2 separate regions of the Homo sapiens genome follow, and region 2 is reported to be linked to region 1. The links are microRNA targets in miRTarBase. Many come from high-throughput screens and were not tested one by one. Region 1 holds a microRNA gene; the other region holds the end of a gene's coding sequence.

Evidence for each region. The annotated mature microRNA hsa-miR-377-3p reads AUCACACAAAGGCAACUUUUGU and lies in region 1 at 1,459-1,480, shown strand. An mRNA with a match to its seed (bases 2 to 7 or 8) in the 3' UTR can be bound and repressed. Matches are read on the target gene's strand: a 7mer-m8 pairs with bases 2 to 8, a 7mer-A1 pairs with bases 2 to 7 and ends in A, and an 8mer does both.
Region 2: the mRNA of PTPRS is a reported target of hsa-miR-377-3p. Seed matches in the 3' UTR shown: 7mer-m8 at 1,154-1,160.

The regions. Positions count from the first base shown.
Region 1 is chr14:101,060,636-101,064,698 of GRCh38, forward strand. It overlaps MIR377 (microRNA 377), which reads left to right and starts at 1,415; the gene lies at 1,415-1,483. It overlaps MIR496 (microRNA 496), which reads left to right; the gene lies at 1-39. MIR541 (microRNA 541) reads left to right here and starts at 3,860; the gene lies at 3,860-3,943.
Region 2 is chr19:5,203,235-5,207,292 of GRCh38, reverse strand. PTPRS (protein tyrosine phosphatase receptor type S) reads left to right here. Exons shown (of 38, transcript NM_002850.4): 38 at 451-1,785. The coding sequence ends at 519. Among named protein-coding and RNA genes, the nearest start is that of PTPRS-AS1, 28 kb to the right of the region's middle.

The sequences.
Region 1 (4,063 bases):
ACATGGCCAATCTCCTTTCGGTACTCAATTCTTCTTGGGAAACGTCACGAGGGGAAAGCCCAGCCGGCACCTGCGCAGGGTAAGGAAGTGGATCACCTCCGCATGACAGGTGCTCTCTGTGTGACTTACATCACTTGGCTCATATCCCGGCCATCATTAGGAGGAATTCCCCGAAATGATGCTGACGTTTTAGTTGACATGGTGGTCTTCTAGTCGCATCCTTGAAGACTCGTCAGTGAATAAACCACATTTAGTCAACCTTTTTAGGTGTGAAATCATCTTGGCTGTGTGGCACACTTTAGGGAAAGGAACTCCTGGCTGAATGGAAGACATCCACATTACGCCCTCAAATACCTTATCTTCTGGGTGACCTCTGGGAAGCAAGGGGTGAAGGGGGTTTCCTCAGCAGTGAGAATTAATGTTGTTTAAAGACACATTTCCATGGCACGACTCGGTTATTCCTACTGCAAGACGAGAATTGTTAATAGCATTTATTACTACCTTATGTTGCCAGCTGTGTGCCCTTGGAAAATCCCTTCACCTATCAGCTCTCTGGGCCTCAGTCTCTTCCTCTGTAAAGCAGGGTTAACAGCGGAGTGGAAACGTGCTCTTTGTGAAGTGTCTAGACAGCGTCTGGCACGTGGCTGTAGGATAAGCATTGTTTCTGAGGATGGTCATTATATGAATGTTATGTCATCTGCACTCATTGTCCTCTCGCCACTAGAATGGAAGCTCCCTGAGGGCAGAGTCCTTGTCTGTTTTGCCTGGTGCTGTGTCGCCAGATGTGCACAGTAGGTGTGATGCTGAATGAATGAATAGGCAGCGTGACCTGTTTTCTTGGTTGAACTCTCTTTGAGGCCTCCTGGAATGGAGTGCATGGAGTACAGTCACCTGAGCCTGTGCTGTCCCTGTGACGCAGCCCCACCCACCCTCTGAGGATGCTGCGCTGGACGAGGAGTCGCCAGCCTTCAGGTCGGGTCCTCCCTCAAACCCCTGTAGGCTGGACTGAACACGGTCACATGGTTCATTGGCAGCCCCCTTCTCTGTGTGAAATCCTGCTTCAGAGACTTCCAGAGGAGATACCGGCTCTGGAGGTGGACCTTGGTGTTCCAGCCCCTCTAGGGTAGGTGACCAGGGGCTGACTCTAGCTCGGGCTGACCTGTGATGTGTGTGTGCATAGCCTCGCCCCCACTGCCTGCTCCAGGGCTACAGAAGCTGGTCCATGACCAACCATGTTCTGACCACTGCCTGGGGGGCTTCTCGGAGGTAGAGAGAGAGAGAGAGCAAGAGGGGAGAGAGCGAGCCAGCAAGCCAGCGAGCCTGCAGCTGGAGTCAGCAGGGAGGTCCCGCAGGCAATGCCGCCTTTGGTGAAGAGGCATCTCGGTGTGTTCTTGCCCGTGCTGATGTTTGACCCTTGAGCAGAGGTTGCCCTTGGTGAATTCGCTTTATTTATGTTGAATCACACAAAGGCAACTTTTGTTTGAGTATCAAATCCTGCTTGGGATGGCTTCCGGGACCCAGTGGCAAGCTCAGGGGCATCTACACCCCTCCCGTGAGCAAGAATGGACGGGGTAGACGTGGGTGGTCTGCCCTCTGCGGTCCTCTGCGGTGGATGAGAACAGATGTCGCTCAGAGAACACAAGCTTCATTCATGATGGGGGCGGGGCTCGCGGCCCGGGGAGGATGGCGTTGGTGTCGCGTCGGCTTTAGCTCTTACCCTGGACCCTGTCTCTTTACATCACCATTTTGGCTGTGTTGATCCCAAAGACATTTTGACTCCACCATTTTTTTTTCGGAAGGTATTTGACCTCGCGGATACACAAAGAGCTCACACTTGGCAGGGTCTGTGACGAGTCTGCAGCCCCAGACCCCCGTCTAGCTCACAAGCACTGTGCTTCTTTCTGCACCTTTCCTTGTCTCTATCTTTCTCTTTCTATCCCCCAACCAAACATTGTTCCCAATTTTCTCCTGGGTTATGAAACAAATAGAGGCTATCAGTATCTCATCCCATTTGTATTAAATAATACTGATAAAAATAATCAACACAAAATAAAACTAAAAACAGCTGAAACGGCACAGTGCTAAATGTGTTCAGTTGACTACAAATTGGCAGAGGAATCCAATTTTCTTGACAACATTTCAGCTGTGACATTTGACCTGGGGAAATAGCAAGCTGCCGACGTGGCAGCCATGGAAGGAAATTCACGGTGGCGGCGGTGATAAACAGTGATATTTGATGTAGACAAGAACACATTGAGGAATCAAATCTTCATGCAGATTTTTAAATGGAAAAAATTGATCCTAATGAAAATGATTTGGGGAAAATAACAAGGGAAATAAGAGAAATGAAAACAGCTCAACAGCGCGGTCAGGAAAGCTAAACAGGGAATTGGATTAGTATAATGGCATTGGCTCTGAAAAACACGTTTCTATGAATATCAGTGTTGGTACAATTCTTGTGAAGGTGGTTACATTTGTGCGTGTTTACAGTGGAGTTGGTGGGGTCAGTAGGAACCTAGGGTCAAAAAATGGGATACAGTCTCCCCCTTTATGCAGTTGATCTTTTCTTGCTGCCCCAAACCTTCCCGAGAGCTTCCCGGAAAGGTGTGCTGACTTCAGGCGTGACACACTGGTAAGGCGTCCTCCCGGGGATCTGGGTGCATGTTGTCCCCAGAGCATTCATACGTAAGTGACAGGCATCACCTGGTCTCCCTCCATCCCCACGGAGGGTTCTGGGTGAGACGCTGACTCCGGAGGGAAGCAGAAGTTCTACGGTCAGTGGGGTCTGGTCTTTCAGGACAGTTGCTTCTGTGAACTCAGAAAATCTGAGACAGCTCTTAGTTAATTTAGAAAGTTTATTTTGACAAGGTTGAGGATACACCCGTAACACAGCTTCAGGAAGTACTGTGGTCAAGGCACAGCTTGGCTTTATACATTTTAGGGAGACATGAGACATCATTCAGCACATGTAAGAAGTACATTGGTTTTGTCTGCAAAGGTGGGACAACTTGAAGCGAAGGCAGGAAGGAGGGAGCTTCCAGGTCACAGACAGGTGATACACAAATGATTACATTCTTTCGCGTTTCTCATGAGCCTTTCCAAAGGAGGCAAATCAGATACGCATCTGTCTCAGTGAGCAGAGGGATGACTTTGAATGGAATGAGAGGCAGGTTTATCCTGAGCAGCTTCCAGCTTGAGTTTTCCTTAGTGATTTTAGGGGCCCGAGATAACTTTCCTTTCACACTTCCAAGGCTATTGATGAACACACAGGCATCCAGGAACATTCTGGGGTTCAGTCCTTCCTCAGACTCTGCTGTTGATACCTTACATGGTTCCATGCTGGCCCCAAGGACGTGCCCTTCGTTGGTGCCGAATGTCATTTGGTCATAGAGGCTGAAAGTCATTCTGGAGTTGATGTTTCCAAGGTCAAAAACCTTGCTGGGGCTGTGGAAAGAGCTCGTTGTTTGCTGGCCTGCTTTGTTGGTGACCAGCATTGCACATGGCTTTCTTTTCAGATCAAACCCTACCTGGAGAATTTCCAGAAGCAACAGCACCCTCAGGAGGCGGCCTGCAGCCGGAGCCCTCTCCAGGGCAGGTGCCTGAGGGCCGCCCATGGGACAGGCCCGATTGTACCCACGGTGCATGTCATCTGTTCCACTCCTGCTGACTCCGGTGCGTTCCGGGACCACCTTGGGAGGTGATGCCTGCCCCAGGAAGGAGGCTCTGATGCAGGTCAGTGCCCATGGCTCCTGAAGGGAAGTCGTCTGTGACATCTTTTCTTTCTTTACAGCAGGCCTCGCATGGCTGGCCTCTTGCTCCACTTGTAGCAAGGCGCAGAGGGCTCTCTGAGCTCATGCCAACGTCAGGGAAAGGATTCTGCTGTCGGTCCCACTCCAAAGTTCACAGAATGGGTGGTGGGCACAGAATCTGGACTCTGCTTGTGGCATCCATCGTCTGGCCCGATGCTTGCTGGCTGCCCGCTCCAGGAGGCACCTTCTGGGTGTTCTCTGAGTCTGGGGAAGGTTGGGTTCTGAGGTCAGGGCTGCCCTGACCCTTGTGAAGA
Region 2 (4,058 bases), not on the chromosome of region 1:
GCCAACATGGCGAAACCCTGTCTCTACTAAAAATACAAAAATCAGCTGGGCATGGTGGTACACGCCTGTCATCCCAGCTACTTGGGAGGCTCAGGCAGGAGAATCACTTGAACCCAGGAGACAGAGGTTGCAGGGAGCCAAGATGGCGCCACTGCACTCCAGCCTGGGCAACACAGCGAGACTCCGTCTCAAAATAAATAAAAAAGAAAAGATGAATAGGGCCTCCAGGCAGACGGGAGGAGAGGGCGTTCCGGGTGAAGAGCCTGGCTGTGTTAGGCAGAGAGGTGTGGCATAGCTCACTTCATTGTGGGAGGGCCGTGGGGGCCAAAGAGACCTTCTGCAAGAGACACGCACAAGGCTGAGGAGCTTGGCCTGCTCCTGAGGGCGATAGGGAGCCCTGGGAGGCGTTAGAGCAGCGGAGGTACTAACAGGTCACCTCTGCTCCCCCAGGATGAGTACCAGTTCTGTTACCAGGCGGCACTGGAGTACCTCGGAAGCTTTGACCACTATGCAACCTAAAGCCATGGTTCCCCCCAGGCCCGACACCACTGGCCCCGGATGCCTCTGCCCCTCCCGGGCGGACCTCCTGAGGCCTGGACCCCCAGTGGGCAGGGCAGGAGGTGGCAGCGGCAGCAGCTGTGTTTCTGCACCATTTCCGAGGACGACGCAGCCCCTCGAGCCCCCCCACCGGCCCCGGCCGCCCCAGCGACCTCCCTGGCACCGGCCGCCGCCTTCAAATACTTGGCACATTCCTCCTTTCCTTCCAATTCCAAAACCAGATTCCGGGGTGGGGGGTGGGGGGATGGTGAGCAAATAGGAGTGCTCCCCAGAACCAGAGGAGGGTGGGGCACAGACCATAGACGGACCCCTCGTCCTCCCCCAGCGGTGGTAGGGGGACCCGGGGGGCTCCTCCCCGCTCTGCAGCCTGGGGACACTGGGCTGGGACCAGAATCCAGCTTTCTTTTAAAACTCTCAGTGTAACTGTATCCCGTGACATTTCATTTTTTTTAAATAGTGTATTTTTTTTTCCATTTTTTTTTTTAAGAGAAACAAACAAAAGACTCGCCAGTCAATGACTTTCAAAGAGAACTAACTTTGGCTTATTCATATTCTGTTCAAAGACAGTCTATTTTTTCACTGTAGAAAGCGTCCTTGTGTGATAGTTACGTTCGCAAACGCGCACGCCAGGCCCATGGCTGTACCTTGGCTTTTTTTTTTTTTTTTTTTTTTTTAATTTTTCCTACCATCAGAAAGTGTGCTTTGCTCACAGAAGAATGGGATGTCCTTTTTTCTTTCTTGGCTTTTTTTTTCCCCCTTTTTGTTTCATTTTTATAAATTAAATTTTCAGACATATCAAATACAGTTCTGAGGGTAAGGTCATGGGGGAGCTCGGACCCAGTGGCGTTGGGTGCGGTTGAGGGGGACGCTGCTGTAAGAGGAGAGAGATGACAGTGGTCCTCCTCTGAGAGCCTGAGCTGTCTCCCCGTCTCCCGCCCCCAAGGAGACAGAGAGGATCCTACTTCTTCGGGGACAGTGGCTGTATGGCTGTGCTGCCCCACATCAGGGACCCTTTCCCCCTGGGACTGTGGGGCAGTTTGGGAGCAAAACCAGAAGGACAGGCCCCCCTCTACCCGCCTACCCTGAGCAAGCGAGTTGTTCCTCTTTGTACAAGGGCAGGTCTGCGGTTACTTTCAACACTGTTTATTCCAGCGGAAGCAGCCGGGTGGTTTTCCCACCCCCGTGTATGTAGATATATCGACTTTGTATTAAAGGAAGATCGTCTGACCCCGGCCCATTGTGGAGTCTTTGTTGCGCCCCTGCCTGTCCAGTTTCATCCCTGGGGTGGAGGTCGGTGGGGTCCTGGAGAGCTGATCTCGTTTCCTTGTGTGAACAGTCAGAGGAGGAGTTGGCCCAGAGAGGTGGTGGTGCTTGTCCAAGACCACACACCGCTGAGGCGGGTGGATCACAAGGTCAGGAGTTTGAGACCAGCCTGGCCAACATGGTGAAACCCAGCCTGGCCAACATGGTGAAACTCAACTCTACTAAAAATACAAAAATTAGCCAGGCGCAGTGGCGGGCGCCTGTAATCCCAGTTACTCAGGAGGCTGAGGCAGGAGAATCGCTTGAACCCAGGAGTTAGAGGTTGCAGTGAGCTGAGATCATGCCATTGCACTCCAACCTGGGTGACAGAGTAAGACTGTCTCAAAAAAAAAAAAAAAAAAAAAACTCAAAACACCGATGAAGTGGCCAGGCCAAGATTTGAACCCAAGCCCTGGTCCTGTAGGGGCTGCCTCGTGTTCTCATTCTAATAAGTGACCATGACTGAGAATTCACCATGGGCCAGACACTCTGAGATAGAAGTTACCAGCCCCTTGGCCAGGCGCGGTGGCTCACGCCTGTAATCCCAACACGTTGGGAGGCCGAGGCAGATGGATCACCTGAGATCGGGAGTTCGAGACCAGCCTAGCCGACATGGCAAAACCCTGTCTCTGCTAAAAACACAAAAATTAGCCAAGCATGGTGGCACCTGCCTGTAATCTCAGCTACTCAGGAGGCTGGAGCAGGAGAATCACTTGAACCCAGGAGGCGGAGGTTGCAGTGAGCTGAGATCATGCCATTGCACTCCAGCCTGGGCGACAGAATGAGACTCCCATCTCCAAAAAAAAAAAAAAAAAAAAAAAAATCCCCATTTACATATTAGGAAACTGAGGCTCAGGGAGGGGCACACAATGAGTTTGAGGTGGAGCTGGGATTCGTACCCCAGCCCATCTCACCCGCAGCCCTGAGCATCACACGGTGCTGCCTTCTCGAAGTGCCCTGGGGAAGAACTGAGTCCGTGGAGGGAAGCAACAGGTTGGGGACACTCTGCTCCACCCCTAGGCCACTCAATGAGCAGATCCATGCACTGAGCCAGAATCACATCCCTGGGGATGGAGAGTGAGCCATTTTGTATCTATACCCTTGCCTGAGTCACTTCTTGCTTGGGCATAGAAGCCACCCACAGGAGCCAGAGATAGGATGAAAGAGCCCCCTATGACCTCAGGGAAGTTCCAGGAATGAGAAGGGGTGATCTTAGTGACACCAGGGACCCAGCTCAGGGAAGAATAGGACTATGTCTCTTAGAAACCAACAGATCAAGGCCGGGCGCAGTGGCTCACGCCTATAATCCCAGCACTTTGGGAGGCTGAGGCGGGCAGATCACGAGGTCAGGAGATGGAGACCATCCTGGCCAACATGGTGAAACACCGTCTCTACTAAAAGTACAAAAAACTAGCCGGGCATGGTGGCAGGAGCCTGTATTCTCAGCTACTTGGGAGGCTGAGGCAGGAGAATCCCTTGAACCTGGGAGGCAGAGGTTGCAGTGAGCCAAGACCATACCACTGTACTCCAGCCTGGGTGACAGAGCAAGACTCCGTCTCAAAAAAAAAAAAAAAAAAAAAAAAAAAGAAGCAACAGATCAGGTAGTCAAAAAAATACAGATGTGACTAACATCATTAATAAGCTTGGCCAAAAATATTTAACAAACCCTATTATCCCCTCCTACTCTAACATTCTCAAACGCACATGGAACATTTGTGAAAATTAACAGAGATCGGCTGGGTGCAGTGGCTCACGCCTGTAATCTTAGCACTTTGGGAGGCCGAGGCAGGAGGATTACCTGAAGTCAGGAGTTCAAGACCAGCTTGGCCAACATGGTGAAACCCCCCGTCTCTACTAAAAATAAAAAACATTAGCTGGGTATGGTGGCACACGCTTGTAATCCCAGCTACTCAGTGGGCTGAGGCAGGAGAATCGCTTGAACCCAGGAGGAAGGAGGTTGCGGTGAGCTGAGATCGCGCCTCTACACCCCAGCCCAGGTGACAGAGCAAGACTTCATCTCAAAAAAACAAACAAAAAATATTAACAGAGATCTTCACAAATTCCAAGAAACAAATATTAGATGAGGTATCCTGATCTTGGCTCTGAAGAGTAATTAGCCTCCCCTGGAAGGGGGAGGGAAATTTTAAAATACTTTTTTTGGCGGGGAGGTGGGTGGGGGACAGAGTCTCGCTCTGTTG